Regions from separate parts of the Homo sapiens genome. Here all the other regions are reported to be linked to region 1. The links are microRNA targets in miRTarBase. Many come from high-throughput screens and were not tested one by one. Region 1 holds a microRNA gene; each other region holds the end of a gene's coding sequence. Distances are between the middles of the regions.
Evidence for each region. The annotated mature microRNA hsa-miR-211-5p reads UUCCCUUUGUCAUCCUUCGCCU and lies in region 1 at 1,989-2,010, shown strand. An mRNA with a match to its seed (bases 2 to 7 or 8) in the 3' UTR can be bound and repressed. Matches are read on the target gene's strand: a 7mer-m8 pairs with bases 2 to 8, a 7mer-A1 pairs with bases 2 to 7 and ends in A, and an 8mer does both.

Region 1 (4,000 bases):
TGGGGCATCGTGGAGAATAAGGAAGACCTGGTTGGAAAGGATGTAAGTGTTTTCTCTGCAAATGTTGGCAGTTTTTTAAAATTAATGATTGATTTTGAGGTAACCGTTGATTCAGATGCAGTTGTAAGAATAATAAGAGAGCTCCCTTGCAGCCTTTCCCATTCCTCCAATGGTAACATCTTGCAAAACCATAATGCAAGATCACAACCCGGATACTGTCATTGATAAGGTCAAGGTGCAGAATGTTTCCATCAACACGAGGATCCCTCCTGTTGCCCTTTCATATACATATACCTCACTCCTTCCTACCCCCACCTCTTCCTTAACCCCTGGAAACAACTAATCTGCACCACCCCGCATTTCAAGAAGGTTCTGTAAATGGAATCATACAGTAATGTAACCTTTGGGGATTGGCTTTTTTTTCACTCCACATAGTTCTCTGAACACGCGTCCAGGTTGCCATATGTATTGGTCTTCATTCCTTTTTACTGCTGGCTGACATCCCATGATATGGAGGCACCAGTTTCTTTAACCATTTGTCTGTTGAGGAACAGTTTGGCTGTTACAAGTAAAGTAGCCATAAACATTCCAGTGCAGGATTTGAGGTTAACATAGGTTTTCATTTCTCTGTGATAAATGCCAGGGGTGCAATTGCTAGGTTGTCATTATCTAAAACAATTAACTTTCTTTCTATTTTAATGTAACAATTGGCAAAAATAAAACCTTCAAAAGGCAGGGTAGAGATGTGAGAATAAGTTTTAGTGCAGTCACTCCACACATATGTATTGTGCTTGCTTCCCTTGTTGGTCTTAACATCCAAGTCCTGCAGGTCTGATTTGCGCTGTGCACTTTGTCAGGTAACAAGAGTGTACCAGACCATGTCCAACCCTCTAAGTAAGCTCTCTGTGCTCAACAACTCCCACACCCACTTCATCCTGGCTGACAATGGCACCCTGGGCAAGTATGGCGCCGAGGTGAAGCTGCGAAGGCTGCTGGAAAAGCACATCTCCCTGCAGAAGATCAACACAAGTAAGTGCTGGCAAAGGCACGCAGTCCTCCTGGGCTGATGCCATCACAGTGGAAACAAGGCTGAGAAGGAGATTGATTGCCCAAGGGGATTAGAAGATTAACCTTGCTTCTTGTTAGGTCAACAGAAAATGACTCACCTAGATGTCTTACCTTAGCCACCTACCAAATCACATTCACTGGGCTACATGGGGATGCTTTGCCCCAGGTTCACAAGTTAGCACGAAATAACCCTCAGTGCTCGCCATGGTGATGGCCTTGCCCACCCTGTTGCCCAGTGGTTCTTGTTCCCTGTAATTAGTTGTTATTTTTTAAGTGTTTTAACAGGAAAACAATTTCTCAAAGATTTAGTAGGATTCTTTCTATTTGCTGATAAGTATTATGTGATTATTAAATATCTCTGTAATGCTGGGCCTTTCATGTAGACTAAGATGGCCAGGTGGGGACATATCTGGAGAGGGCTGCAGGAGCCATCTGCTCCTGAAGGGGCATCATCCTTGCTGGTCCTGAGGGGGAGCTGTCACTGTCAGACGAAAGCTGAGGTCGAACTAGAGAGAAAGACGCAAACCTCAACCAGAAGAAACAATGATAACAACTGGTTAGAATTACAATAACTGGTATAATCTCTTGGAGCATGTTTATACTCCAGTAATTCTTAACGTCAAACAATTGTTAAATGATCTGAAAGAGCAGTTTGTTTTTCCCATTACTGGCAAGATTTTTGTGGGAGACCATCTAGTCCTGGCGAATGGTCATTGGGAATCATCATGTATGGGACTGTGATGCTGCAGAGTGGGTAGAATGGGGATGGCCTACTAGGAAAAGTTGTAGATTTCCGAGAATCAGATCTCGAAGAATACATTGGTCGATGACTGAATGTTTTTTGTTCTCACATCTCTAATTTTTCTGGACTTGTAAGTTTTTACAACACCCCATTTCACCTGGCCATGTGACTTGTGGGCTTCCCTTTGTCATCCTTCGCCTAGGGCTCTGAGCAGGGCAGGGACAGCAAAGGGGTGCTCAGTTGTCACTTCCCACAGCACGGAGCTTCGAGGACTCCAGCCTAAGCCAAGAAGAACCTGTTCTACTCTGTTGCTCGAAAAGAAGGTGATTTGGCCACCATATTCCTAAAGATTGAAAATATCAATCCTTGCTTGGGTTGGAAATCTCAAAGGCGGAGTCCAGGATATCTTAGTTCATTTTTCCAATATCTCCTGGTCAGGGCTTTGCACAAAGCAGACCCTCAATGCATGTCTGCTGAAATGAACTTAGCTGTAATTACTCTGGTGGACACAGCAGAGTTATTCAACATATGTAAGAGTCCCTGACTGTAGAAACACCTCATGGAAGCAAATTAGAAACTCTGAAATGGCTCATTTGAAATTCTCCAATCTTCTCTTAACCAATGCTGGCAGATTTTTATCTGAAGCCCTTCAGAGCTGAGACCAACGATACTTCCACTTGCCTTTAGTTAATATCGATCAACTAATTCCCATCACAACTAATGGACAGCTGGTGAAATAGGCTCAGAGTGTGATCTGTCATGGCCAGTGTGGCATAAAATTAGGAAGTAGGCAAATGTGCCTCCACTCCCATTTCCTTCCCATTCCAGAATCCCAACTTCCTGGAATCTTCCTGCCACCTCTTGCTTCCCAGAGCCATGCCTGCAGGTTCTGCCACCAAAAGTTAGTTGGTACCCACTGTGTTCTTGAAGAGTCCTATTAACTGATAGAGACAGAGGGAGGACTCTGGGAACAGGTCATTAACTGATGGGCCACTAGTGGTCCAAGTGGCTGCGTCCAAGATCTGCACTTTATTCCAGCCACTGAAGACAGAAACGTCAACAAGAACAGTGTACCTCATTTGTATGCTACTTAACGTTTACAAAATTATTTGCTAGCCAAACACATATTCTGATATTTTTACAACTGCAGGAGTTAAAGGAAGCACTGTGATTGTTCACCTTTTACAAATGGCTGTCTAAGGCTCTTGGTGATTTGGTGATTGGCCCAGTGTCATAAGGGAGAAGCCAGGAATTGAACTGCAATTTCCCTGGCTGGTCCAGATCCCCTTTCATCATCTTATTCTTCAGGGACAGCCATCAGGGTGGGAATTTCAGACCATAGGCTAGGACAGCCAGGGGGATATTTTTCCAGCCAGGAATACCTTCCAATATTTCTCAGTGGTCACCTTGAAGTAGCCCCAACATCAGGTGGGTGGGTTATTCAGGAGTTTAACCATATGTGAGTCAGAAAGTTTCAGACTTTGAGGTCCTGGTTTTCCCAATGAGGCCATAATATGTGACAGAATGCAAGAATGATAACTGGGCTGGGCACAGTGGCTTACACCTGTAATCCTAGCACTTTGGGAGGCCAAGGCAGGTGGATCACTTGAGCCCAGGTGTTTGAGACCAGCCTGGGCAACATGGCAAGACTTCATCTCTACCAAAAATTAGCCAGGTGTGGTGGCATGTGCCCATAGTCCCAGCTACTCAGGAGGCTGAGGTGGGAGGATTGCCTGAGCTGAGAGGGAGGTTGAGGCTGCAGTGAGCCATGATCATGCCACTGCACTCCAGCTTGGGGGACAGAGTGTGATTCTGTCTCAAAAAAGAAAAAAGAAAAGAAAAGAAAAAGAAAATTGTTATCACATGCCTGAATTCCTTCCAGCCAGATAGAACATCCCCCAAGTCGTAATGTTTTTACTCTTCCCCATACTTCAGGAGTTAAAACGACTGGGTGGACAGTGCAGGGCACAGGTGGTATGGGCGAATGTGGTTTGTGTTGCAGGACTGGGGCAGGGCGTGCCCCTCGTGGGTCTCGTGGTGGAGGGGGGCCCTAACGTGGTGTCCATCGTCTTGGAATACCTGCAAGAAGAGCCTCCCATCCCTGTGGTGATTTGTGATGGCAGCGGACGTGCCTCGGACATCCTGTCCTTTGCGCACAAGTACTGTGAAGAAGGCGGGTAGGATTTCTGA
Region 2 (4,075 bases), not on the chromosome of region 1:
CTCTCCAGGGCCCACCACGGGGAAGCAGGACATCACCTCCCAGAGCCCAGCAGTAGGGAGACTGGCCGAGGTGCCAAGGGTGAGCGAGGTAGCAAGAGCCACCCAAACGCCCATGCCCGAGGCAGAGTCGGGGGCCTTGGGGCTCAGGGACCTTCCGGAAGCAGCGAGTGGGAAGACGAACAGTCTGAGTATTCTGATATCCGGAGGTGAAATGAAAGGCCTGGCCACGAAATCTTTCCTCCACGCCGTCCATTTTCTTATCTATGGACATTCCAAAACATTTACCATTAGAGAGGGGGGATGTCACACGCAGGATTCTGTGGGGACTGTGGACTTCATCGAGGTGTGTGTTCGCGGAACGGACAGGTGAGATGGAGACCCCTGGGGCCGTGGGGTCTCAGGGGTGCCTGGTGAATTCTGCACTTACACGTACTCAAGGGAGCGCGCCCGCGTTATCCTCGTACCTTTGTCTTCTTTCCATCTGTGGAGTCAGTGGGTGTCGGCCGCTCTGTTGTGGGGGAGGTGAACCAGGGAGGGGCAGGGCAAGGCAGGGCCCCCAGAGCTGGGCCACACAGTGGGTGCTGGGCCTCGCCCCGAAGCTTCTGGTGCAGCAGCCTCTGGTGCTGTCTCCGCGGAAGTCAGGGCGGCTGGATTCCAGGACAGGAGTGAATGTAAAAATAAATATCGCTTAGAATGCAGGAGAAGGGTGGAGAGGAGGCAGGGGCCGAGGGGGTGCTTGGTGCCAAACTGAAATTCAGTTTCTTGTGTGGGGCCTTGCGGTTCAGAGCTCTTGGCGAGGGTGGAGGGAGGAGTGTCATTTCTATGTGTAATTTCTGAGCCATTGTACTGTCTGGGCTGGGGGGGACACTGTCCAAGGGAGTGGCCCCTATGAGTTTATATTTTAACCACTGCTTCAAATCTCGATTTCACTTTTTTTATTTATCCAGTTATATCTACATATCTGTCATCTAAATAAATGGCTTTCAAACAAAGCAACTGGGTCATTAAAACCAGCTCAAAGGGGGTTTAAAAAAAAAAAACCAGCCCATCCTTTGAGGCTGATTTTTCTTTTTTTTAAGTTCTATTTTAAAAGCTATCAAACAGCGACATAGCCATACATCTGACTGCCTGACATGGACTCCTGCCCACTTGGGGGAAACCTTATACCCAGAGGAAAATACACACCTGGGGAGTACATTTGACAAATTTCCCTTAGGATTTCGTTATCTCACCTTGACCCTCAGCCAAGATTGGTAAAGCTGCGTCCTGGCGATTCCAGGAGACCCAGCTGGAAACCTGGCTTCTCCATGTGAGGGGATGGGAAAGGAAAGAAGAGAATGAAGACTACTTAGTAATTCCCATCAGGAAATGCTGACCTTTTACATAAAATCAAGGAGACTGCTGAAAATCTCTAAGGGACAGGATTTTCCAGATCCTAATTGGAAATTTAGCAATAAGGAGAGGAGTCCAAGGGGACAAATAAAGGCAGAGAGAAGAGACAGAACTAAAAATACGAGGAAAGGAGAGTGAGGATTTTCATTAAAAGTCTCAGCAGTGGGTTTCTTGGGTTATTTAAAACATCACCTAAATAGGCCTTTTCTTCCTAATTGGCCATCAAATTAAAGCCTATCCTTTCTCAAGCAGGAGCTGGTATTGTAGGGAGTGGCCGGGTATTCTGGGCTGGGCTCTTCTGGAGTAGGGGGTCAGCAAACATTGTCTGCAAAGGGCCAGATACTGAATCCAGTACTTTCAGTTTGGCGAGCCGTGAGGTCTCTGTCGAAACTACTCAACTCTGCCGTCCTAGCACAAAAGCAGCCATAGACAACACACAAACGAGAGGGCTTGGCTCCCTTCCAGGAAGATTTATTTAACAGGCTCCCAGCTGAATTTCACTCACAGGACACAGTTTACTGATCTCTGTTCTAGTGAGTGGGTCAAAAAGCATATGCATCCTTATCCGTCAACTCATCAGCTCTTCCTCAAGGCAACCTGAGGCCAGACACCAAGAAACCAAGCGTATCTGCTCTAAAATGACTTGTTCCTGGGGAATGCCTTCAACCAAAACACAGCTAGTATTTCTATGCCCCAAATCCAATCCCAGTCTTTCATGATCCATGCCGGCGGTTGGGTGGGGAGGGGAATCATTGGTTGGGGGAAGGGAGGAAACCCCACCTCCAGCCCCCGCCACCGGGCTCCCTGGGCACCCAGCAAGATCTGGGGCTGCAGAGAACAGAAGAGCTGGTGCACTTAATCCAGCTCTGCCCTTGGGGGGAGGAGGACCTGTGTGTCAGGCTCTGCCATGGGAACGAGTGTAAACCGTGGCTGTCTCCTGCAGTGAGCCACCGCGGCAGGCACGTTGACTGTTTTACTGACATCACTCAAAAGCTAAAGCAATAACATTCTCCTGCGTTGCTGAGTCAGCTGTTCATTTGTCCGCCAGCTCCTGGACTGGATGTGTGAAAGGCATCACATTTCCATTTTCCTCCGTGTAAATGTTTTATGTGTTCGCCTACTGATCCCATTCGTTGCTTCTATTGTAAATATTTGTCATTTGTATTTATTATCTCTGTGTTTTCCCCCTAAGGCATAAAATGGTTTACTGTGTTCATTTGAACCCATTTACTGATCTCTGTTGTATATTTTTCATGCCACTGCTTTGTTTTCTCCTCAGAAGTCGGGTAGATAGCATTTCTATCCCATCCCTCACGTTATTGGAAGCATGCAACAGTATTTATTGCTCAGGGTCTTCTGCTTAAAACTGAGGAAGGTCCACATTCCTGCAAGCATTGATTGAGACATTTGCACAATCTAAAATGTAAGCAAAGTAGTCATTAAAAATACACCCTCTACTTGGGCTTTATACTGCATACAAATTTACTCATGAGCCTTCCTTTGAGGAAGGATGTGGATCTCCAAATAAAGATTTAGTGTTTATTTTGAGCTCTGCATCTTAACAAGATGATCTGAACACCTCTCCTTTGTATCAATAAATAGCCCTGTTATTCTGAAGTGAGAGGACCAAGTATAGTAAAATGCTGACATCTAAAACTAAATAAATAGAAAACACCAGGCCAGAACTATAGTCATACTCACACAAAGGGAGAAATTTAAACTCGAACCAAGCAAAAGGCTTCACGGAAATAGCATGGAAAAACAATGCTTCCAGTGGCCACTTCCTAAGGAGGAACAACCCCGTCTGATCTCAGAATTGGCACCACGTGAGCTTGCTAAGTGATAATATCTGTTTCTACTACGGATTTAGGCAACAGGACCTGTACATTGTCACATTGCATTATTTTTCTTCAAGCGTTAATAAAAGTTTTAAATAAATGGCTTCCACTTGAGTAGCGTCATTGTCTGAGAGGGTCATTGATGTCCGGTGCACAGGGGGACAGCTGTGAGCAAGTGGGCTTTTACGTCAAGAGAATCCTATGCTTCTGTGGATGTTCAGCCTACAGGGAAGGAAGTTAGATGAAGAGGACTACCCTAGGCTTCTCCGTCAGAGGGACCCTGTCCAAGCCCCTGCCTGAGTCACCCAGACAAGGAGGAGAATAAATTTCATGCAGTTGGCCTGGAAGTGCCACCCCCACACCCCATTAGGCAGGTCCTTAAGGCTCACTCTGGTCTCACCTTTGAGTCTCCCCTGTGAGTCTCCCCTGTGGCTTGGCCACCCCTTCTCTCAGACTGAGCCTGCAGCAGACACCACCAGCTTAACAGCTGAGTGGCCTGGCATATAGAGGGAAGCCCACTGCCTCCTCCCCAGCTCTTGCTCACGACAGCAGAACAGAGCTGGAGCCCCTGGTTTACGTGATCTGTGCCACTGTTGGTGTACCTACTATGTTCCAGGCACCACAGTAGGCATTTTGCATGCATTATTTCATCCTCATTACATCCCACAAATAATAGGTATTATCCTCATTCTACAGGTGAAGAAACTGAGGTACAGACTTGTCCCAAACTGTGTGGCTAGTGAGTGGGGTGGGGTCTGAACTCAAACTCAGATCAGGACTCCTAAGCCCACACACCTTCCCCTACTTCAGGCCTAGAATCTCCACTTTAAATTTATTTTTAAGTT
Region 3 (4,077 bases), 50 Mb from region 1:
AGGGGCTCTCCATCCTCACCCACGACGTGCAGAGCCAGCTCAACATGGGCCGCTTCGGGGAGGCGGGGGACAGCCTGGTGGAGCTGGGCGACCTGGTGGTGTCGCTGACCGAGTGCTCGGCCCACGCGGCCTATCTGGCCGCTGTGGCCACGCCGGGCGCCCAGCCCGCGCAGCCGGGCCTGGTGGACCGCTACCGCGTGACGCGATGCCGCCACGAGGTGGAGCAGGGTTGCGCCGTGCTGCGCGCCACGCCGCTGGCCGACATGACGCCGCAGCTGCTGCTGGAGGTGTCGCAGGGCCTGTCGCGCAACCTCAAGTTCCTGACGGACGCGTGCGCCCTGGCCAGTGACAAGTCACGGGACCGCTTTTCGCGGGAGCAGTTCAAGCTGGGCGTCAAGTGCATGAGCACCAGCGCGTCGGCGCTGCTGGCCTGCGTGCGCGAGGTGAAGGTGGCGCCCAGTGAGCTGGCGCGCAGCCGCTGTGCGCTCTTCAGCGGGCCCCTGGTGCAGGCAGTGAGCGCCCTGGTAGGCTTCGCCACCGAGCCGCAGTTCCTGGGTCGCGCGGCAGCTGTGAGCGCCGAGGGCAAGGCGGTGCAGACCGCCATCCTGGGCGGCGCCATGAGCGTGGTGTCGGCCTGCGTGCTCCTGACCCAGTGCCTCAGGGATCTGGCGCAGCACCCCGACGGGGGCGCCAAGATGTCGGACCACAGGGAGAGGCTGAGGAACTCGGCCTGCGCCGTGTCTGAAGGCTGCACCCTGCTATCTCAGGCTTTAAGGGAGAGGTCTTCGCCCAGGACTTTACCGCCAGTGAATTCCAATTCTGTGAATTAGCACCCCACCCCCATACCCCTTCTTCCACCCCCAGACTAAAGGAAGATACTTACTCTCTGCCCCTCTCCATTTATACCAAAGAAATCATAGGTGAAACCCCCTACCCTCCCCAACGTTAAATGCTCGAGAGGAATCTTCCACAAGGCAGGGCCATGCACGCAACCTGCACACGCACTTGGAGGGCCCAGGTGTCTCTCCACCAGCCCCCATGCAGTAGGGACTGGAAGATATGTCATCTGCTGGTTGTGTTATCACTCCCACCCCCTACCCCAGCCCGTCTTCCGGAATTTCTCAACTAAATTTCATTATTGGGCAGGAAGGAGGTCATGGGTTCATTTCATTTTTGTTTTTTGTGTTTTTAATTAAAAGAAAGGTTACCTCAGTTTTCACTCCTTAGACATGGATGTAGCTACCTTTTTTTGTATGTCTTTTTTTTTTTTAAGCAATCGTGTTGAATTAGGAGTATACTTGGTGTGGAAAGAGTATGAATTTGCCATGTGATTTGCAAATGGGGGGAAGCTACTGTGAGCGTGTGTTTTTTTAATTTACACTATAGAGTGATTTTTTTTTCCCCCAACGTCAAGTTTTTACCTTGCATGTACTGGAGTATTTATTTCATCTATTAAAATGTTATGTTTCTCAGATGGCTTTTTGCAATTATTGTTGATTTTTCAATAATTGTAATTTTGCATGCTGCATGTCATGTATGGGAAGGGTCTGTGGGAAGGCTATTTCAATAGTAGTGAGGCGGGCCCCCAATTCCCAGCCCTTTCTACTATTTCCTCAAGAAAAAGTACTGCTCAAGAAGTACTCCCTTGAGCAGCCTGGAACTGAAGAGAGGACTATGTGTAACGTTCTATTTTAAAAGGCAGGTGACACAAATGGGATTGGGTTATGTAGAGTGCTTGGGACGGTTTTGTCTCATTTTTCCTGGAAAGTGATTTAGCTCCCTTTGTCTCCACTTACCTTTCCATCATCATGAACAGTGGCTCAGGCTGCTTGAATTCTGATTTGTATTCTGCCTATCATTTTCAGATTAAATCCTAATCCTGTGTGGTATGCCAGCCTTCCCAACTCAGAGTCTCTGGATGGAACTCTAAAAGTACTGTACATCAAGTGAGAATAGTTAGCATCTTTTATGTACACAGGTCTATTCAGACAAGATCCTCATGATTTCAGAAAAAATATAGAGAGGGTCCTAGACTGCTTAATAGAGGAAAGAAGTATCCTGGAAAGCTTGTTAAGAACGTTCTAGAGCCACAACATGATTGTAGGCCAAGGGCTTGTTTTTGTGACCTTGATCTAAGATAATGCCATGGTTGATTGTATGTTGGAAGAATCTTTGATTGGAATTTGGAGTAATATTAAGGTAGTTTGTCTTTTCTGCAGACATTTTTAGGAGTCTTTTTGTGTGAGTGGTGGTGGAGTGTATAGTTTTGTTGAACCTAGTTAAATTCTGAATATCTTCCCACTAAAAGCACAACAAATCTATTTACAGTGCCTGAAGCCTGGGAGAGCCACATGAGTAAAAACTCGTACGTGGTTTAGATTTGTTCCATTTACATTTTTCTTGGGATTTGTTGTGCTTAAACCTTTGCAGTTCCCACAGATCTGAAAAGAAAGCATTTTTCACTGTAATACATTAAGAGAGAGAGAAAAAAGTCATATTGACTATTTTACTTGTTTGAATCGCTGTTTTTATTACAATGACATGAAATACAACGTGTAAAAGTCTTTAACCTGTGTTGGGTAAGGGTAGGACTGTTTCACCACCCTGAATTTGAAATTTGAAAAAGTCTTAAAGTGGTAGGGTACTTAAATTTTTAAAAAAATGACCATGGGAGCAGTTTTTCTCTGTTAAATCCTGGTAAACTTCGGGTTTTTGAAGACTTTAAAAGATGAAAATGACCTTGAGCATCTTTATTCCTTTCCTCTGCCCCTTAATGTTGGGATGGGGTTCAGGATGAAAGGGAGGTGGGATTCTAATTCATGTGCCAGTGACAATCCTGCATGCATATAGAAATTTTTATTTATTGAATGTACACAAGTAATGATGGAGTTTGATTATATGGTTCATTTTCATTTATCCTATGCAGATCACAAAGAGTAAACTGAAAGGAACAAACGCTAAGTAAAATAAGGGCCAGAAATCTGTAAATTTGGTATTAGATTAAGAAAAAAAGAATTGCCAGTTTTTTCCTGGACTCTTTCCTTGCAGAAGCGATTTTCAGGACAACTCAAGCCAATTAAAAAAAAGAAAATCACTTTCCCTATCTGTTTGGATGAAGTTAACTAGCTAGTCACTAAGTGAATTTTGAAACCTCTTACCTAAATGATAGCTGCTCTTGGTGTTTCTTTATGCTCTACGTTTGGTCATGTAACATGCATAATCTCTGTTCTCTGAAGTTGATTAAAGTTCTAAACTTAAGCGTTTTCACTGCTCCTGCACCCCCCACCTCCCATTTATAACATAAAGTTCAGGGCTTTTCTTCCAGCAGGTGTCTTGAAGTGAATTCTGCTTGTACTTTTTTTCTAGCAGATTTCAAGAAGCCAGAGTGAGGAATGCTAGGCAAGGGGATTGGGCACAGGTCTTTGACATTTTAACTTTTCTCTAATGTCCCAGGTTGCTAAACTTGTTTTTTAAATAGCCCCTGATGTTTAAAAAAAGCAGCGTCTCAGACCTATTTCATAATAGGGTTTAATAAGGTCAGCAGAGATACTGGTTCCAGGAATAAAATCAGAGTGGCCTGTTTTTTTTGTTTGCTTTTTAATTTTTAAACTAGGGTTAATTTAAGACATTAATCCTTGGGTTCTTCTGACTCCTGAGGGCAAGTTTTCTTACACAGGCTTAATGTGCATCATCTTGACCAGGGAATGTTGAGAACCTTCTTCCTTTGAATGGTCATGAGAAAAGGAAATCATGATTGCTAAGTTCTTTGAACAAAAGACATTATTTATGATAGTCAACTCAGTAAATGGAACAAAAACAGTCTTTCAAACATAAGACTTAACCAGAAAAAAGCACAACTCCATCTTTCTTTGCCTGTTTTAAGCATAGCATTTATGGGTGATGTTAGGAAACACAAAAATTATGTGTGTGTATTTGCTTTCTTCCGCACCCCCACCATCCTCATCTGATTGGTTATTTTACACACACTTTTTTTTTTTTTTGAGAGGGAGTCTCACTCTGTCGCCCAGGGTGGGATCTCGGCTCACTGCAAGCTCCACCTCCCGGGTTCATGCCATT
Region 4 (4,072 bases), not on the chromosome of region 1:
TTTTTTTTTTTTCTCTTGAAGAACATTTGCTACTGATTTAGTTCTGTTTTAAAATTCTCAGTTGAGATGTCCTGTTTTAACCTCTGTGTAACTCTTCTTCAGTCATTTCCTTTCTTCTCAGTTCAGTATAATCTACCTCCCCCAGTTTGCTTATCAGACCAACATACCCCACAGGCCTGGACTTTGTTCTGACGTCCCTTTATATTTAATCCCAATGCTGTTTCTCTGCCAAGCAGATGTGTATTAAAATGTGCATAAGAAAAGAAGCAAGCTGGGTTTATTTAGAAATTTCCTCAATTTGCACAAATTCCATTGGTATAAGAGGGTTTTTTTTTCTATAAAAACCCACAACAAACATATGGTAATAGCTACTTAGATGGATCAAGACAAATTCGTATTTGGCCATTTCTGCCATCCCCATTCTGGCCCCTTTGCCAGAGACACAAAAACAATGGCTCATATTGTTTCAATGTCAATGTCAGAGTATTCATAGATGGAGAAACATATGTGACACACTGAAGCTTTTTTCATGCTTGTTGAAGCTGTCTGTTCATGGGGAATGAGTGACTTGAACAGCCTTTTAAAGGCATTTTGGCCAGCTTGAAAGAGTTTTTTATTTTTTTCTTGTCAGGTATTATATCATTTATAAGGTATTAGAAAGGATAATTTCCCTCAGGTCTTTGGGTTTCATGTACGATTTTTTTTAAACTGCTTATTTTCAATATGATAAAGGCATTTAAGAAACAAGGCCCGGCACGGTGGCTCACACCTGTAATCCCAACACTTTGGGAGGCCGAGGCGGGTGGATCACCTCAGGTCAGGAGTTCGAGACCAGCCCAGCCAACATGGGGAAACCCTATCTCTACTAAAATACAAAAATTAGCCGGGCATGGTGTTGTGCGCCTGTAATCCCAGCTACTCAGGAGGCTGAGGCAGGAGAATCGCTTAAGCCCAGGAGGCAGAAGTTGCAGTGAGCACAGATCATAGCACTACACTCCAGCCTGGGTGAGAGAGCAAGACTCCATCTCAAAAGAGAAAAAGAAACAAGCTGTAACTCACTAAGCTAAAGACATGGCCCCTAAGCTTAAATGTACAAAGAGAGGGAGAGTGAATATTGAGATATATGTAAAAGATATTGTGAGTCCTGTTTTCTGGACTGCTTATTTTAGATCTATTAACAGATGGACATACTTTTCGTGACCTTTTCTGACACAGGCATCAACTTCAGGGCCATTTGATCTGGATGTTTTTTTAAAAATAGGACTACTCTAGCAAGAACATGGTAGAAAGAGAGTCGCATTTATCAGGCCATCCAATCTAGGAAGGAGGGAAAGAACTGATCAGATCATGGTCAAATTCAAAGCCAGGGAAGTAGCATCAGCAGGAGTAGGATGAGAGTAGGTGGCACAGAAAAGCCACCTGCGATCCACAACCAAGCAGCATTTCCTCTGGATCTTGTTGACAACTTTTGGCTGAGTGTGGGCAGTCAGGAAGAACCAGAGGTCTGCAGGCAAATCCTCCCTGAGTCCCAGCCAGTGGTGGAAGTGCTGGACCGGATGGCAGAGCCTGAAGCTATCTCAAACCATTCCCAAATAAGAAATACCACATGCCACTTCTAGCTTTTATTATTTCGGCCCTGAAGCAAATTAGGCATCTAAGGCCCACAGAGCAGGTGTAGCTTAACAGGAATTGCGTTGGGCAACAGCTGCCCAACACAGTTCAGGAAACTCAGGAAACCTGAGTTTCAGTCCTGTAGAAAACCACCTCTTCAACAGTCGAGGAAATCAGCCTTTACTTGCAACAAATTATTATACATTTCTAAATGCTTTGGTGTCACTGAGTTGATGTCCCAAAGCCATCTGATATTTTTAAACCAGCTTTTTTGCTATATATGTATATGCATAGAATTGCCATGATTTATTACACTTGGATCTGTGGATAGTGAAGAATATGTCTGAAATGTGATGCAAATTCATTCAAGAGATTTAAAGCCAGGAAACAAAGCCTTTGCTTAACTTTTTATTCATCATGGCACAAGATAGAACCTTAAGAAACACCACTGGGAATTTCATCACCAACATGAAAATTAAGAGTAGCATGTTTTATAAAAAAAAAAAAAATCTTTTTTTATAATACACTTTCCCTTCAGAAGTGAAAAAAAATTGCATAAAATACTGAAGCGTATCGCCATCTGCTGGTCAAAAATAGTTATGCACTTGAAAAACTTCAAACTACTAAAGTACGGTAGAACATTTTACAATACACATAAAATTACGAAAGAAAACATTTCCTCAGCCTTTGGCACAATGTAAGTACAAAGCTGTAGGCCTTTTACCAAATGTGATTTAGTTTTTAAGGAATTGCATGTAATTTGGCAAATACTGATTATGGGGCAAAGGGAAAAAACATGTTCTATAATTTGAATATTCTGTGTAGATTCTTAAACACTTTATAGTTGGATTCCAGTTTGTAGTTTTGAAAAATACATAAAAATTATACATTATAAATATATATTATATATGGCCTATATAAAACTGAATTTGATGTAACGTGGGACGGACAACTTCTTAATTTCTTTGTGAGGCACTGCCTTTTTCTTGTTTGGTTAACTGAATCCTTTCTAAACAAGTTCTAAAAATATATTTCGTAATCTATCAGATTTAGCATTTTCCTGAAAACGTATTCAATATCTAAAAGCATTCAGTGATTTTTCTTTTTGTATCTGACTCCTATGTAAAAATATGGCTTCTCATATTCTGCTTCCTCTTGTTAGTGTTTGGTATCGAAGGAAGGGTTATCCCCAGTTATAAAGCTATGGCAAAAGCACAGAAACCCGCTTGTGCACATTCTAGAACATTCTATAGAATCTCATTGTTTAGTATATCTCATTGCTTAATATAAGTGAAGTGATTTTTTTTTTAAAAGTTCCTTTTGTTTTCTCTTTGTGAATATATCATATATGATTATACATAATCTGTTACAGAATACACAATAGTCAAAACCGAAGACACATAAATACGGTTAGGCTATACCAAGCAAGAGTTGTATCTTATATTATAGAGCCAAGAGGGACGTTTTTAGATTGGACATTGCCATCTGGTTTGGGTTCTGTTTGTTTTTCCTAAGGCTGGCTACGCAATGGAACCTTATTCTCAATGGCGGGGGCGTGAGTGCTCTACCTCTGTAGGTGAACTGGATTTCTCTTGTGTCACTTTTGAGAAGTGTGAAAGAAGAACACTAAGTGTGCCAGTGGCCACCACCCACGGTCCCCCCTGGGCTGGAGGGCGGGGGGCTCGGGGCAGGGGGGGCTCGGCTGGGTGCGGGCTCAGACCAGCGTCTCGGGCAGGGCATCGGGGTTGTCGGTCGACAGGAGCTCCCAGATCTGCCAGCGCTCTCTCTGCCAGTCGAGCCAGCCAGCGTCCCCCAGGCGCGGACTGTCCTGCTCGCCCGCTGGCAGGGAGTTGGCGCTGCTCAGTTTTTTCTGCGTGACCTGCTGCTCTCGCTCGGCTGCTTGGCCTCCCTGGTCCGTGGGTGTCTCCACGCCTTCCGGGGGCCCCTGGATCCAGGCTGCCGCTGCCGCGGGCTTCCCTGGGCCCGGGTATGGAGGCGGGGGCCGCTTGTCATCCCTCCCACTCCCATGGGGTCTTTGGCACTGAGGTGTGGCCCGGCTCTGCAGCCCGGCCACATCCAGCTCACTCTCGCTGAGGTCGTGGGCGCCGCTCAGGGTCAAGTACTGCTCCGACCTGGCCGTGGGCCGCTCGGCTTTCCCTGCCACCTGGACGTGGGGCGTGCTGCAGGCGCGCGACACCGCAGGGTGGGCCCTGCCCTCCGTCGCGGGGGCTGCGGCCTGAGTCCTCCGAGCCCCCTGCGTGTCGCTGTCCAGCTCTGCGGGGCTCCCCTGCCACCGAGGCCAATTTGGGGACAGGTTCCCTTGAGAAAGGGAGCAGGGCCCCGCTCTTAGGGAGCTGCTTTCAAAAATGTCTCCAGAGGAACCTGGAAGCCAGAGAGAAAGCCCAAGAAATGGAATCAGTTTGTAGAATCCTTGCTGGGGATTCAAATCCTGTTATTTCCT
Region 5 (4,077 bases), not on the chromosome of region 1:
TTTGCTTAATAATGACTCCTTAGCTGGGTTTGAGAACCACCAGGTGAAGCCAGATTGGGAGATAGGGAGAGATCAAGCTGAGGTGAGAGGGGGCTGGGGAGGACACAGTCAGTGCAAAGGCCCAGCGTTGCCAGGAAGGGAGAAACGGCGCGCGGCCGAGGGCCTGTCCAGTAGGCTCACGCCCCCTCTCGGCCGCAGCGGGAGATGCAGGCGCAGGACAGGCAGCTGGCAGGGCAGCTGCTGCGGCTGCGGGCCCAGCTGCACCGACTGAAGATGGACCAAGCCTGTCACCTGCACCAGGAGCTGCTGGATGAGGCCGAGCTGGAGCTGGAGCTGGAGCCCGGGGCCGGCCTAGCCCTGGCCCCGCTGCTGCGGCACCTGGGCCTCACGCGCATGAACATCAGCGCCCGGCGCTTCACCCTCTGCTGAGGAACACCTGTGCCCCCCGACTCCCCGCCCCCTCTCCCAATGCCGCTTCCCCTGCCTGCCTGGGAAGAGGAAAGGGAGGGGTGCCCCAGAGGCACCAGCTCCTGGCGGGGGAGGAGGAACATTCAGGTTTCTGAGAGCTGAATTCCAAGAGTGCAAAACCCCAGCATCCTGTTTCCTCTGCTGACCCAGCTGGGAGGGGGAGGAGGAGGAGCTCACACCCTCAAACTCCTCAATAAACGCTTTCTCTGGTTCCCATCAAGGTCTCTTGCAGTCGTTTATTCAGGCCCAAGGCCGCTATCTGAATGTCGCCTGTCACTGGGACCACCCTAGTTCACTGCAGGCCCATGGGAGGTGACTTAGGTAAATTGGGCTCCTGAAGAATGCAGAATCTGAGAGACATGGGTTCAAAGCCAGCTACCCCGTTTATTTCTTTTTGTTGTTGTTATTTCTTCTGCTTCTTTTTTTTTTTTTTTTTTTGAGGCAGAGTCTCACTCTGTCACCCAGGCTGGAATGCAGTAGCACAATCTCAGCTCACTGCAACCTCCGCCTCCGGGGATCAAGCGATTCTCCTGCCTCAGCCTCCCAAGTAGCTGGGATTACAGGCGGCCACCACCTCGCCTGGCTAATTTCCTTTCTTTTCTTTTCTTTTTTTTTCTTTTTTTTGAGATGGAATTTCACTCTTTCGCCCAGGCTGGAGTAGTGGCGCGATCTTGGCTCACTGCAACCTCCACCTTCTGATTTCAAGCGATTCTCCTGCCTCAGCCTCCCAAGTAGCTGGGATTACAGGTGGCCACCACCTCGCCTAGCTAATTTCCTTTCTTTTCTTTTCTTTTTTTTTTCTTTTTTTTGAGATGGAATTTCACTCTTTCGCCCAGGCTGGAGTAGTGGCGCGATCTTGGCTCACTGCAACCTCCACCTTCCGATTTCAAGCGATTCTCCTGCCTCAGCCTCCCGAGTAGCTGGGATTATAGGCACCCGCCACCATGCCCGGCTAATTTTTGTATTTTTAATAGAGACAGGGTTTCAGCATGTTGGCCAGGCTGGTCTCAAACTCCTGACCTCAAGTGATCCACCTGCCTGGGGTTTCCAAAGTGCTAGGATTACAGGCCTGAGCCACCGTTTATTTCTATTCGACCCTGAGGAGCTCCCTTAACCCCTGAGTCTGTTTCCTCACCTCCACAATGGAGATGCTGATTCTCACTCCACAGGCAGCAGATGTGCCTTACGGGAGATAGTGCACAGTGAGCGCTCAGTGAATATGAACTATTACTCACTCCCAGCGCGGCAGTCTTTCTACTCTGTGCTGAGACAGGGAGATGGACCGTGAAGTGTTCAGGCTTACATTGCAAGGGAGTCTGGGCCCTGCACCAGGCTTGGAGCTCCAACTCTAGGCTCTGTGTCACTGTGAAGGTTTTTCACTTTGTCTCTCTCAGCCTTTGTTTCTGTGTTACCCTCTTTGTCTGACTTTCCAACTCAGGCTTCCTCTTCCCCCCACCTATTTCCTGCCCCCACTTCTCTCTGCAGCTGAGGTGCACACAGCATCGCTTCCACCTCACAAGCCCCAACAATGCTCTGTGGGTTCCCCTCCCCCTACCAGCTCACTCAGGCAGTGACGCATGTGCACTTTCCTCCTGGTGGGGTCAAGGCCGAGTTCTTGGACCTGATGAGGCCACCTGGAGTTCCTCATATCACTGGTGACCTGGCCCTCAGCTAATGATGGGTGCCCCCTCAGCCTGGCCCCAGGGGAAATGGAAATTCTTTGCCTGCCTGCTGCTCGTGACAATCTTCTTGCCTCCTGCTTATAACAGAAAGTCCTGACAGTCTGTGGCCTGCACCTGGGGGCCTGAGCGGCCCTGTTTGCTCTGTCTTCCACCTGTTGCAGGAGATAGTGCCAAGCCCTCCACCTCTGCCAGGGGCTGTGGCCTTGCCTCTACCTGAATTCGAACTGTTGCCCTACTCTCCAACCATGATTAATGGGTGTTGTCCTGGCCTCTGACTACAGCAGGGGCCGTTACTATGCCCTCTTGAAGACATGAGGTTGTCCTGTCTGCCTCCTGAAACAGGCTGTTTTCCAGCATTCTGTCTGTAAGAGGGATGGTAGCCTGCCATTCACCTACCCTTGACTATAATAAAGCTACTGTTCCATGCCCTGAGATGACATGGGAATTGTTCTCTCGGCCTGACCTGACTGTAACATGCATGGTCTGCTCACCAGCTATTTAACAGGGATATTGTCCTCTCCTCTGACTCTGAACGATGCTACCTTTGCTGCCAGACAGAAACAAAAGGGTCTCTCAGCTGCAACGGTGGTGCTGAGGTGCTGTTTGCCTCTCACCATAAGCTGAGTGTGTGTCCGCTTGCCCCCTGCTCACTGGGCCCAAAGGCTGCCCTTGAATCTCTTGCCCAGATGCACCCTGGAGGGCAGAAGGGAGGGTCTATCAGACATCCTCCCCTCAACTTTAAACCTCCCAGTGTCACCCTGGGACAGTAGGGGAAGATGGACCTGGTCTGGAGATGTAGGGGACCCCCAGGGGCTGAGAGGCAGGGGTCTATGGTGGCAGGAAGCTTGGCGTGCTAGAGGGTTGTGGTTGGGCTGCTGGGGCCCGGTTGGCTGCGGAGCCCTCCGGAGGAGGCAGGAAGTCAGGGTGGGACGTGGGCGCGGGGAGACAGGTGGTGGCTACGACGGCGAAGGGAGCTGAGACTGTCCAGGCAGCCAGGTTAGGCCAGGAGGACCATGTGAATGGGGCCAGAGGGCTCCCGGGCTGGGCAGGTAAGGAGCGCTGGTATTGGGGGCGCAGGCGCCGGGGTGAGAGGCCTGATAGCAGACGGCTGCAGCTGTGCGGGCCCAGGCTCCCTAGGGATGCAGCAGCCCTTTGTGGCTGGGGAGAGAAGATCCTCGCTCAAGGTCAGGTGGGAGGCAGGCAGTGTAGCTGGGTCGCCTCTTTCCTGCGAAGCTGGTGTCGCTTGCCTCTGTCGTGCTGTCCACCAGTGGCCCCACCTGACTGGGAGCGTGTTTCCTGGACACCAGGCACATGGACAGTCAGGTGTTAAAAAGGCTTCCAGAAACCACCAAGCCCAGTCCCTCAGGCCATGAGGATGAGGCTCCTGAGGCCCAGAGAGAACAAGGCACTCACTGCCCACGGTTTCTCAGCAAGGCAGTGGCAGGGCTGAGAGTGATGGCTGAGGCTGTGGCCACCCCGCCTGGAGCAGGGTGATGGACAGGCTGGACTCAGAGGACCCAGGAATCCTTCTGGTTTCTGGGGCAGACCCCAGTGACAAGAATCTCCTGAGAAAGAGAGAGAGAGAGAGAGAGAGAGAGAGAGAGAGAGAGAGAGACAGAGATCACCCAAGGCATCCAGATGGACATGCGAGGAGTGATTTTAGCCTCAGCGATCGAGGGAAGAATCTCCTGATGGGCGTGAACTGATATGTGTGGGGGTGTCCATCATCTGGGATGGAGCTCCAGGGTGGATGGACATATCTGATCTGAGTATGGGAAGTTGGAAGTGAAAGAGAATGATGGGAGAAAGGAAGAGGAAGTACTATTTTTATCCCAGACAGGGGTGCAGTTGGTCCTGGGTGAGGAAGCGCTGAACTTCCATCTGGAAAGTCACCATTCCTGCCCCTGCCAAGCGTCACAGCAGGATG
Region 6 (4,066 bases), not on the chromosome of region 1:
TGTCTTGTTTTAAAAGAAATGGACATATATATGTACCTGTATATTTAGCAAGATTGAAAATTCACTAAGTCCCTTTAGAGTGTAATTTCTATATTATCACAACCTAAAATAAAGGATTTACATTTCTTACTACAAGTCAAATATGATAATAAAACTCATATCAAATTTAGGATTTTTTTTCTAGTTCTCTTAAGCATGATGATGGTGTTTTGATGAGAATTGAAATGGATTTATAGATTTCTTTTGGCAATGTGTTCATTTTCACAAAATTGATTCTACCCATCCATGAGCATGGGATATATTTCCATTTGTTTGTGTCATCTACGACATTTTTCAGCAGTGTTTAGTAGTTTTCTTTGTAGAGTTCTTTCACCTTCTTGGTTAGGTAGATTCCTTAGTAATTTGTTTTGTTTTTCTTTTTCTTTTGCAACTATTTTCAAAATGGATGAGTTTTTTATTTGATTCTCAGTTTTGAAACCTGCATAGCCAAAGAAAGACTAAGAAAAAGAACAAACCTACAGGCATCACATTACCCAAAGTATTACAAGGCATATTACAAGTTACCAAAACAACATGGTATCAGTATAAAAACAGGCATATCGATCAATGGAACAGAAGAGAAATTCCAGAAATAAAGACAAGTACTTACAGCCCACTGAACTTTGACAAAGCAAACAGAAACATAAAGTGGGGAAATGACACCCTATTCAACAAATGGGGCTGGAATAATTGGCAATCCCCATGTAGAAGAATGAAACTGCATCTTTGTCTCTCCCTTATAAAAAGTCAACTCAAGATGGATCAAATAATGAAATCTAAGACCTGAAACAATAACAAATTCTAGAAAGTAACATTGGAAAAACTCTTCTAGACATTAGGTTAGGCAAAAACCTCATGACCAAATATCCAAAAGCAAATGCAACTAAAGCAAAGATAAAGAGTTGTGATTTAATCAAACTAAAAACTTCCGCCAGCAAAAGAAATAATCATCTGTGTAAACAGACAACTCACAGAATAGTGGAAAATATTCATGAACTATTTATCTGACAAAGGACTAATGTCCAGAATCTTCAAATGGCTAAAAAAAAGCAAAAACCCACCAAAAAGTAGCCTAATGTAATAAATAGACAATTCTTAAAAGAAGATATATAAATGGCCAACATATATGAAAAAATGCTCAACTTCACTAATTATCAGGAAAATGCAAATCAAAACCACAATGCAATACCACTATACTCCTGAAAGAATGAATATAATTTAAAAATCCAAAAATAATAAAATGTTGGCATAGATGTGGTAAAAAGGGGACAGTTTTATGCTGCTATGGGAATGTAAACTAGTACAAGTAATATGGAAAACCATATGAAGATTTCTATAAGAAATTACAGTAGAAGTACAGTTTGATCCACCTATCGCACTACTGTGTATCTTCCCGGAGGAAAGAAAATTTTTATATGAAAAAGACCCACACACATACATGTTTGCAACAGTACTATTCGCAATTAAAAAAGAAAAAGAATGGAACAAGCCTAAATGCCCATCAACCAACCAATAAGTGGATAAAGAAAATGTGGTATACATACAAACACACACACACAGATGTTGCAGGAAGTCAGGGATCCCGAATGGAGGGACTGGGTGGAGCTGAGGCAGAGGAACATAAATTGTGAAGATTTCACTTTAATATGGACATTTATCAGTTCCCAAATAATACCTTTAGAATTTCTTATGCCTGTCTTACTTTAATATCTTAATGCTGTTATCTTCATAACCTGAGGATGTACATCACCTCAGGGCCACTGTGATAATTGTGTTAACTGTACAAAGTGCTTGTAAAACATGTGTGTTTGAACAATAAGAAATCAGTGCACCTTGAAAAAGAACAGAATAACAACAACATTTAGGGGACAAGGGAAGACAACCATAAGGTCTGACTGCCTGTGAGGTGGGGCAAAAAGAGCCATTTTTTCTTCTTTCAGAGAGCCTATAAATGGACGTGCAAGTAGGGAAGATATCGCTAAATTCTTAGCCTAGCAAGGAATATTAATATTAGTAATCTGGGAAAGGAATGCATTCCTGGGGGGAGGTCTATAAACAGCCACTCTGAGAATGTCTGTCTTACGTGGTTGAGATAAGGACTGAGGTATGTCCTGGTCTCCTGCAATACCCTCAGGCTTATTAGGGTGGGGAAAATCTCCACCCTGGTAAATTTGTGGTCAGACCAGTTCTCTGCTCTCGAACCCTGTTTTCTGTTGTTTAAGATATTTATCAACACAATACATGCACCACTGAACATAGACCCTTATCAGTAGTTCTGCTTTGCCCTTTGTCCTGTTCCCTCAGAAGCATGTGATCTTTGTTCTGCCTTTTGTCCTTTGAAGCATGTGATCGTTGTACCTACTCCCTGTTCCTACACAACTCCCCACCCCACCTTTTGAAACCCTTAATAGAAAACCTGCTGGTTTGAGGCTCAGGTGGGCATCATGGTCCTACCAATATGTGATGTCACCCCCGGCAGCCCAGCTGTAAAATTCCTCTTTTTGTACTCTTTCTCTTTATTTCTCAGCTGGCCAACACTTATGGAAAATGGGAAGAACCTACATTGAAATATTGAAGGTGGGTTCCCCTGATACAAACACACACAAACACACACACACACACACGTATACACACGCATATACACTATATATATATATATATATATATATATATATATATACCATGGAATACTACTAAGCTGTAAAAAGAAACAAACTAATGGCATTAACAGCAACTTGCATGAAGTGGGAGAGCATTATTCTAAGTGAAGAAATTCAGGAATAGAAAACTGAACATCGTCAATTGTCACTTCTAAGTGGGATCTAAGCTATAAGGATGCAAAAGCATAAAGATGATGTAATGGGCTCTAAGGATTCAGATGGGAGTGTGGGAGGGGGTGAGGGATAAAGAGTATACATTCAGTGCAAGGTACACTTCTCACATGATATGTGCCACGTAACCTCAGAAATTACCACTAAAAAACGTATGCATCTAATCAAACACCACCTGTTCCCAAATAACTATTGAAGTAATTAAAAATATCAGAATAAAATCAACGAGAAAAATATCTTTAAATATCTGGAAAAAATAGAATTTGCTCATGAAACCAAAGATGTGGCAAAACAGTTCAATTTTACAGTAGGAAGCAGGTAACAGTGGCTATATTTCTAATTTCACATAATTTCCACTGAGAAATGACTTATGCTCTTAAAACAGTAAACATTTGGCCATCAATTTTAGCAAAAAATGTGACAATGAAGCTGCATGCAGTGTAAAAGTAAAGCAATACTACTTATCTCAAGATATCAAAAGGAAGAGAGAGACTTTTTATACAATTTAACTATGTAATAGTTTCTTTAGCAACAGTTAAAACAACCGAATCCTGTTCAAAATGAAGCCAAATTATTCTGAGTATGTGCAAAACACTACTGATACTGTCAGTAGACTTCTTAATGTTCTTGTGTTTATATAAAATGTGTGAAATGTAGTTAAACTGAGTAATATTTTTATGTAACTTGTGAATTCAAACAACAAATCTCAATATAAGTGCAACAAATTTCAATATGAGCTCATATGGCTTTATATTATTTTTTATTTTCCCTAGTGTTTTCTTCATTGCCACAGAATATTTCTAACCATTACCTGGGTGGTAAATCTCTGAAAAACAAATTTTTACTTGACAAGGTAGATTTTGAAAAGTTTTTTTTTTTGTCACAGGAAGAAAGAAATCTTGCATAACAATCTTTTCTTTCTTGCTGGAATAAACTGATGTCAACCCATCTATCTGGTTTTCCAGCTTCAAATGTCAGACATAACTAATCTCTTTTTCCCTTCTTCCCTTTTCTAGCAAACTTCCAGAAACAAAACAGACAAAACTTTGTGACGACAAATATCACAGTTGCCACACAGGCCAGCAGAAACCCAATCACATCCAAAGAGTGGTACTGGAACCAGGTGAGGTCACGGGCTGCAACTCGAAGGTGTTTGGCTCCTTTGTGGCACATCACAAATTCAATCCAGAAGACTG
Region 7 (4,077 bases), not on the chromosome of region 1:
CTGGGGCCCTCCATGCTGGGTGACGTCCTCAGCATCATGGACAAGGAGGAGTGGGACCCCGAGGAGGGGGAGGGTGGTTACCATGGCGATGAGGGCGCCGCTGGCACCATCACCCAGGCTCCCCCGTACGCCGTGGCGGCCCCTCCCCTGGCAAGGCAGGAAGGCAAGGCTGGCCCAGACTTGCCCTCCCTCCCCTCCCATGCTCTGGAGGATGAGGGGTGGGCAGCAGCGGCCCCCAGCCCCGGCTCAGCCCGCAGCATGGGCAGCCACACCACACGGGACAGCAGCTCCCTCTCCAGCTGCACCTCAGGCATCCTGGAGGAGCGCAGCCCTGCCTTCCGGGGGCCGGACAGGGCCCGGGCTGCTGTCTCAAGACAGCCAGACAAGGAGTTCTCCTTCATGGATGAGGAGGAGGAGGATGAAATCCGTGTGTGAGGCGGACAGTGGGTGGCCACCGGGAGCTCTTGGCTGCATCTTCTCCCTGCCCCCACCCCACTATGACCTTTGACCCTACGGCGCAGGGGCAGCCAGGACCCTTGATTCAGACCATGGACCCTGGACCTTGTAGATGAGGGACACTGGCCTGGCCCTCGGGTCTTCGGAGGACGTAGGGGGCTGGCATGGGTGCCGACTGGCTGCCTGACTTCATCATGCTCCCTGCACTTAGGCTGCGTGGGACAAGGGCTGTGTTGTCACAGCAGGAATAGGTTTTCCTCTGTTGGCCTCCCTTTCCTCCACCCTGGCCTCAAATGGATGCCAGATGCCAACCCCAGTTCTGGCCACGTACAGCCAGCGGGTCAGCCCAGAGGCAGCCTCAGCTCCAGGGCTAAGGACTCTCGGCTCCCATTTTCTCTGCTGGCGTTTCTGCTGTGCCCAGCAGTGGCTGCTGGGGAAGCAGCTGCAGCAGGAGGGAGACGGTCTTGCCTCTCAGCCCCTCCCTGCCCCACCCCAGCTCCTGCCCTGGAAATCTGGAGCCCCTTGGAGCTGAGCTGGACGGGGGGCCAGCTGCGAGCATGTGCACTAAACGCAGCCCTTTCCAGGGGAAGAGAACAGGATGGAGAATGGAAGGAAAGCCCCCCAGGCTTCGTGAATTGCAAGAAGGGACCCTTCCAGGATGACACTAGGAACAGGGCTAGGGCACTCGCTCAGTCCCTAGGGGCTTGTTTGTTCTTTATTATTGTGTTTAAATCCTTATAGAGCAATATCAGGATGGTGTTAATAGGTCTGCCTCAGAATGAGAATCAATCCTTTTAGAAAACCTTTATACTAAGCCTCCTCTTCAAAATTCACAGTGGCGATTAGCGGACTGGAGTCTGGTGGCGATTAGCGGACTGGAGTCTGGGGACATCCGTGGCAAAGACACCAGCTCAACTTTAGTGCTTCCCAACTTTATTTAGAATGACATGGGGTGGGTGTCTGGTGTGTGTGTTTTCCCTACGCACCTCCCATAGCTATTAACAACTGAGGAAGGCCAGTGCAGAATATTTTTGGAGAACGATTTTTTTTTTAAATAATATATCATTCCTATGGGGGGAAAGCCTTTTTTTTCTTTTTGGCTGAGTTATTCCCTCCCTCCCCTCAATACCCTCAGTACTGACTACTTCCCTTTCTTTTCTCAGGCCTCCCCCCACCGACTTTTGAGGCCAGGGTTGGCCAGATTTAGCAAAACCAAAACAGAGTGCTGAGTTAAACGCAAATTTCAGGTAAACAAAAGATAATTTTCTAGCATTAATATGCCCCACGCAATATTTGGAACACTTATGTGAAAAATGATTTGTTTTTCTGAAATTCACGTTTCTCTCTGAGTCCTGTAACTGTCCCCGAGGGGATTGAGCAGAAGCTCGGGTATGAGCCCTGAGGTTGACTGCCGGTTATTTTTCTGTCCTGGGAACAGCCTGACCCACCTCCCTGTCTCCATGTAGCCAGTGAGGGGAGGGGGAGACACAGAACCAACCACAGCCAGGGGCGTCCCCATGGCGACTGTGGCCCGGCCCCTCCTCTCTTGCCTGACTCTCCTCTCTTGCCTGACTCTAGACACTAACTTAGTTCCAGGTTCGGTGCCCTGTTGGTGCTCCTGTTTCCAATAGCTTAGGTCCCATGGTGGGGGAGGAACCTCAGGGGCTATGCAGCCCCCGCCAGCTGCCCTCGAATCCCGTCCAGGCCAATTCCAGATTCTAAACTGATTTTTTTCATGATATTGTCAAAACAGTGAGGAAACATTAAAAAAAAAGCCCTAAAGCACGCCTGGTGTCTGTCTCTGCTTTTTGGGAGGGCTATTTCAGGATGGGGGTGGGGTCTGGACCCAGGTCCTAGAGCTGTCCAGGGGGGCCTGAGGTGGCTTCTGTCTCTCTGTCCGTGAGGACCCGCCCTTCCTGCGATGCTGTCTGCCTGGGCAGGCCCCTTCAGAGTCTGGGGACTCAGGTGTCCCTAACTGCCATCTCTTGGAAGCCCTTGGCACTTGGTCGCTTAGCTGTTCTGTGCCTCCCTCTCCTGCTCTGTAAAATGGGTATCCTGCCACTCTTAGAGGGTTGAGGCACAGAAACAGTGACATGGGCTTTTTGTGGGGGAGGGGGTTGGTTTTTTGTTTTTTTTTGTTTTTTTTTTTTGTTGTTGTTGTTTTGTTTTTTTTGAGATGGAGTCTCACTCTGTCGCCCAGGTTGGAGTGCAGGGGTGTGATCTCAGCTCACTGCAACCTCCGCTTCCTAGGTGCAAGCGATTCTCCTGCCTCAGCCTCCCAACTAGCTAGGATTACAGGCGTGCGCCACTACACCCAGCTAATTTTTGTATTTTTAGTAGATACTGGGTTTCACCATGTTGGCCAGGTTGGTCTCCAACTCCTGACCTCAAGTGATCCGCCCACCTTGGCTTCCCAAAATGCTGGGATTACAGGTGTGAGCCACCGTGCCGGTCGACATGGGCTTTTTATACAGTTGTGATTAGGATGAGAGTGACTGTGTTCTCCCCAGCCCCCTGGTGTCCTGGTGCACGGAACTGTCACCACCAGAAAGTGGCTGGCCCTGAAGGCAGTTTCTGCATGATGCTGGGAGCGGGGCTACCACCTCCTCTTTCCCCTTTTACCGTTAAGCCTGGAAAATCAGCTTACAAGTGGCAGGTCCTCAGTTCAACCTCACTTCTCAGGGAGATAGAAGCTCCACATCCCCATTTTCCAGATGGAGAAAGATGATCAGATAAGCCTCGAGGCCGCCTTCTCTAATGCCCAGAATTCATTCAAAACTCCTGCCCTTCTCACCCCACCACTCCTGGGCACATCAAAACCTCGGGATATAAAGTCAGGGGGTGAGGGTCTAGTGGCCCCTGAACCCACTGCCCTGCCCCTGCCCTACCACCTCCTTCCCTTGAATCATGTTCCCCTCTTTCTGGACAGCTTCAGAAGGGAGCCCTGGTCTGCGTAGGGCTGGCTCACTGCTTGTTGAAGCCCCCGCTTGCTCTCAGGAAATCTGGGGAAATCTTGGGGATCTCAATGTGGCTGAGTTCCTGGTGGAAACCCTGCACTCTCCCCTGAGCACCCACAGAGAAATGTGAGTTCCCCACTCATCTCCCTGGAAAGCAATTAGAGGCATAATTAAAATGTCACTCAGGTCCCTCCCTCTGTCCCTAGACAGGCTCATTCGTGTGGGAGTTATGAGCGGGGACTTCTGGCTGCCCCAAGGGAAGAAGAGAGAGGGAGGAGAGCTGGGGCCCATTGGGAGACGGGTCCCTAGGGGCTACAGTCTAGCTCAGGGATGACTGGGGAGAGGAAGGTACTGTTCAGGCGAGGACCAGGCAGATGAGAAGGGGCTGTGCCTCCCAGACACAGTGCAACCTCCCAAGAGAGAGAAATGACTGTACCTACACCGACTAACCAGGGACTCCCTAGGGGCCCAGAGAAACCAGCCGCCCCGAGCCCCAGAATCTGTTTCTTGACCATTGATGGAAAAGCTCTGAGCATTCAAGAAGACCCGGGGACCTGGCTTGATTCACAGCTTTAAGGAGCATACCTTCTGGCTGGGGGTTCAGTGGACCCAGGAGACAAGGATGAGATGAACACGCAGAACCAGCCAGGCCACAGAGCTCTGT

Region 2: the mRNA of STC2 is a reported target of hsa-miR-211-5p. Seed matches in the 3' UTR shown: 7mer-m8 at 3,096-3,102.
Region 3: miRTarBase lists TLNRD1 as a target of hsa-miR-211-5p. Seed matches in the 3' UTR shown: 7mer-m8 at 2,797-2,803.
Region 4: the mRNA of ARHGAP6 is a reported target of hsa-miR-211-5p. Seed matches in the 3' UTR shown: 7mer-A1 at 2,140-2,146.
Region 5: the mRNA of FAM167B is a reported target of hsa-miR-211-5p. Seed matches in the 3' UTR shown: 7mer-m8 at 500-506.
Region 6: miRTarBase lists UGT2B28 as a target of hsa-miR-211-5p. The part of its 3' UTR that is shown has no 7-base or 8-base seed match.
Region 7: the mRNA of CDC42EP4 is a reported target of hsa-miR-211-5p. The part of its 3' UTR that is shown has no 7-base or 8-base seed match.

What each region holds. Positions count from the first base shown.
Region 1 is chr15:31,063,105-31,067,104 of GRCh38, reverse strand. MIR211 (microRNA 211) reads left to right here and starts at 1,964; the gene lies at 1,964-2,073. TRPM1 (transient receptor potential cation channel subfamily M member 1) reads left to right here. Exons shown (of 28, transcript NM_001252024.2): 6 at 1-42; 7 at 858-1,029; 8 at 3,813-3,987.
Region 2 is chr5:173,313,982-173,318,056 of GRCh38, reverse strand. STC2 (stanniocalcin 2) reads left to right here. Exons shown (of 4, transcript NM_003714.3): 4 at 1-3,334. The coding sequence ends at 210. Among named protein-coding and RNA genes, the nearest start is that of MIR12118, 12 kb to the right of the region's middle. RefSeq lists an enhancer at 1-1,200.
Region 3 is chr15:81,002,531-81,006,607 of GRCh38, forward strand. TLNRD1 (talin rod domain containing 1) reads left to right here. Exons shown (of 1, transcript NM_022566.3): 1 at 1-3,258. The coding sequence ends at 830. Among named protein-coding and RNA genes, the nearest start is that of TLNRD1, 3.6 kb to the left of the region's middle. RefSeq lists an enhancer at 184-1,068.
Region 4 is chrX:11,135,538-11,139,609 of GRCh38, forward strand. It overlaps ARHGAP6 (Rho GTPase activating protein 6), which reads right to left. Exons shown (of 13, transcript NM_013427.3): 13 at 2,007-3,993. The coding sequence ends at 3,326. Among named protein-coding and RNA genes, the nearest start is that of HCCS, 26 kb to the left of the region's middle.
Region 5 is chr1:32,248,173-32,252,249 of GRCh38, forward strand. It overlaps FAM167B (family with sequence similarity 167 member B), which reads left to right. Exons shown (of 2, transcript NM_032648.3): 2 at 199-684. The coding sequence ends at 429. It overlaps LCK (LCK proto-oncogene, Src family tyrosine kinase), which reads left to right and starts at 3,093. Exons shown (of 13, transcript NM_005356.5): 1 at 3,093-3,199. RefSeq lists enhancers at 308-467, 1,696-1,905, 2,096-2,305, 2,356-2,445.
Region 6 is chr4:69,294,598-69,298,663 of GRCh38, reverse strand. It overlaps UGT2B28 (UDP glucuronosyltransferase family 2 member B28), which reads right to left. Exons shown (of 6, transcript NM_053039.2): 6 at 3,614-4,066. The coding sequence ends at 3,855. Among named protein-coding and RNA genes, the nearest start is that of UGT2B28, 16 kb to the right of the region's middle.
Region 7 is chr17:73,281,788-73,285,864 of GRCh38, reverse strand. CDC42EP4 (CDC42 effector protein 4) reads left to right here. Exons shown (of 2, transcript NM_012121.5): 2 at 1-2,241. The coding sequence ends at 435. Among named protein-coding and RNA genes, the nearest start is that of CPSF4L, 22 kb to the right of the region's middle. RefSeq lists enhancers at 1-6, 562-1,118, 3,971-4,077.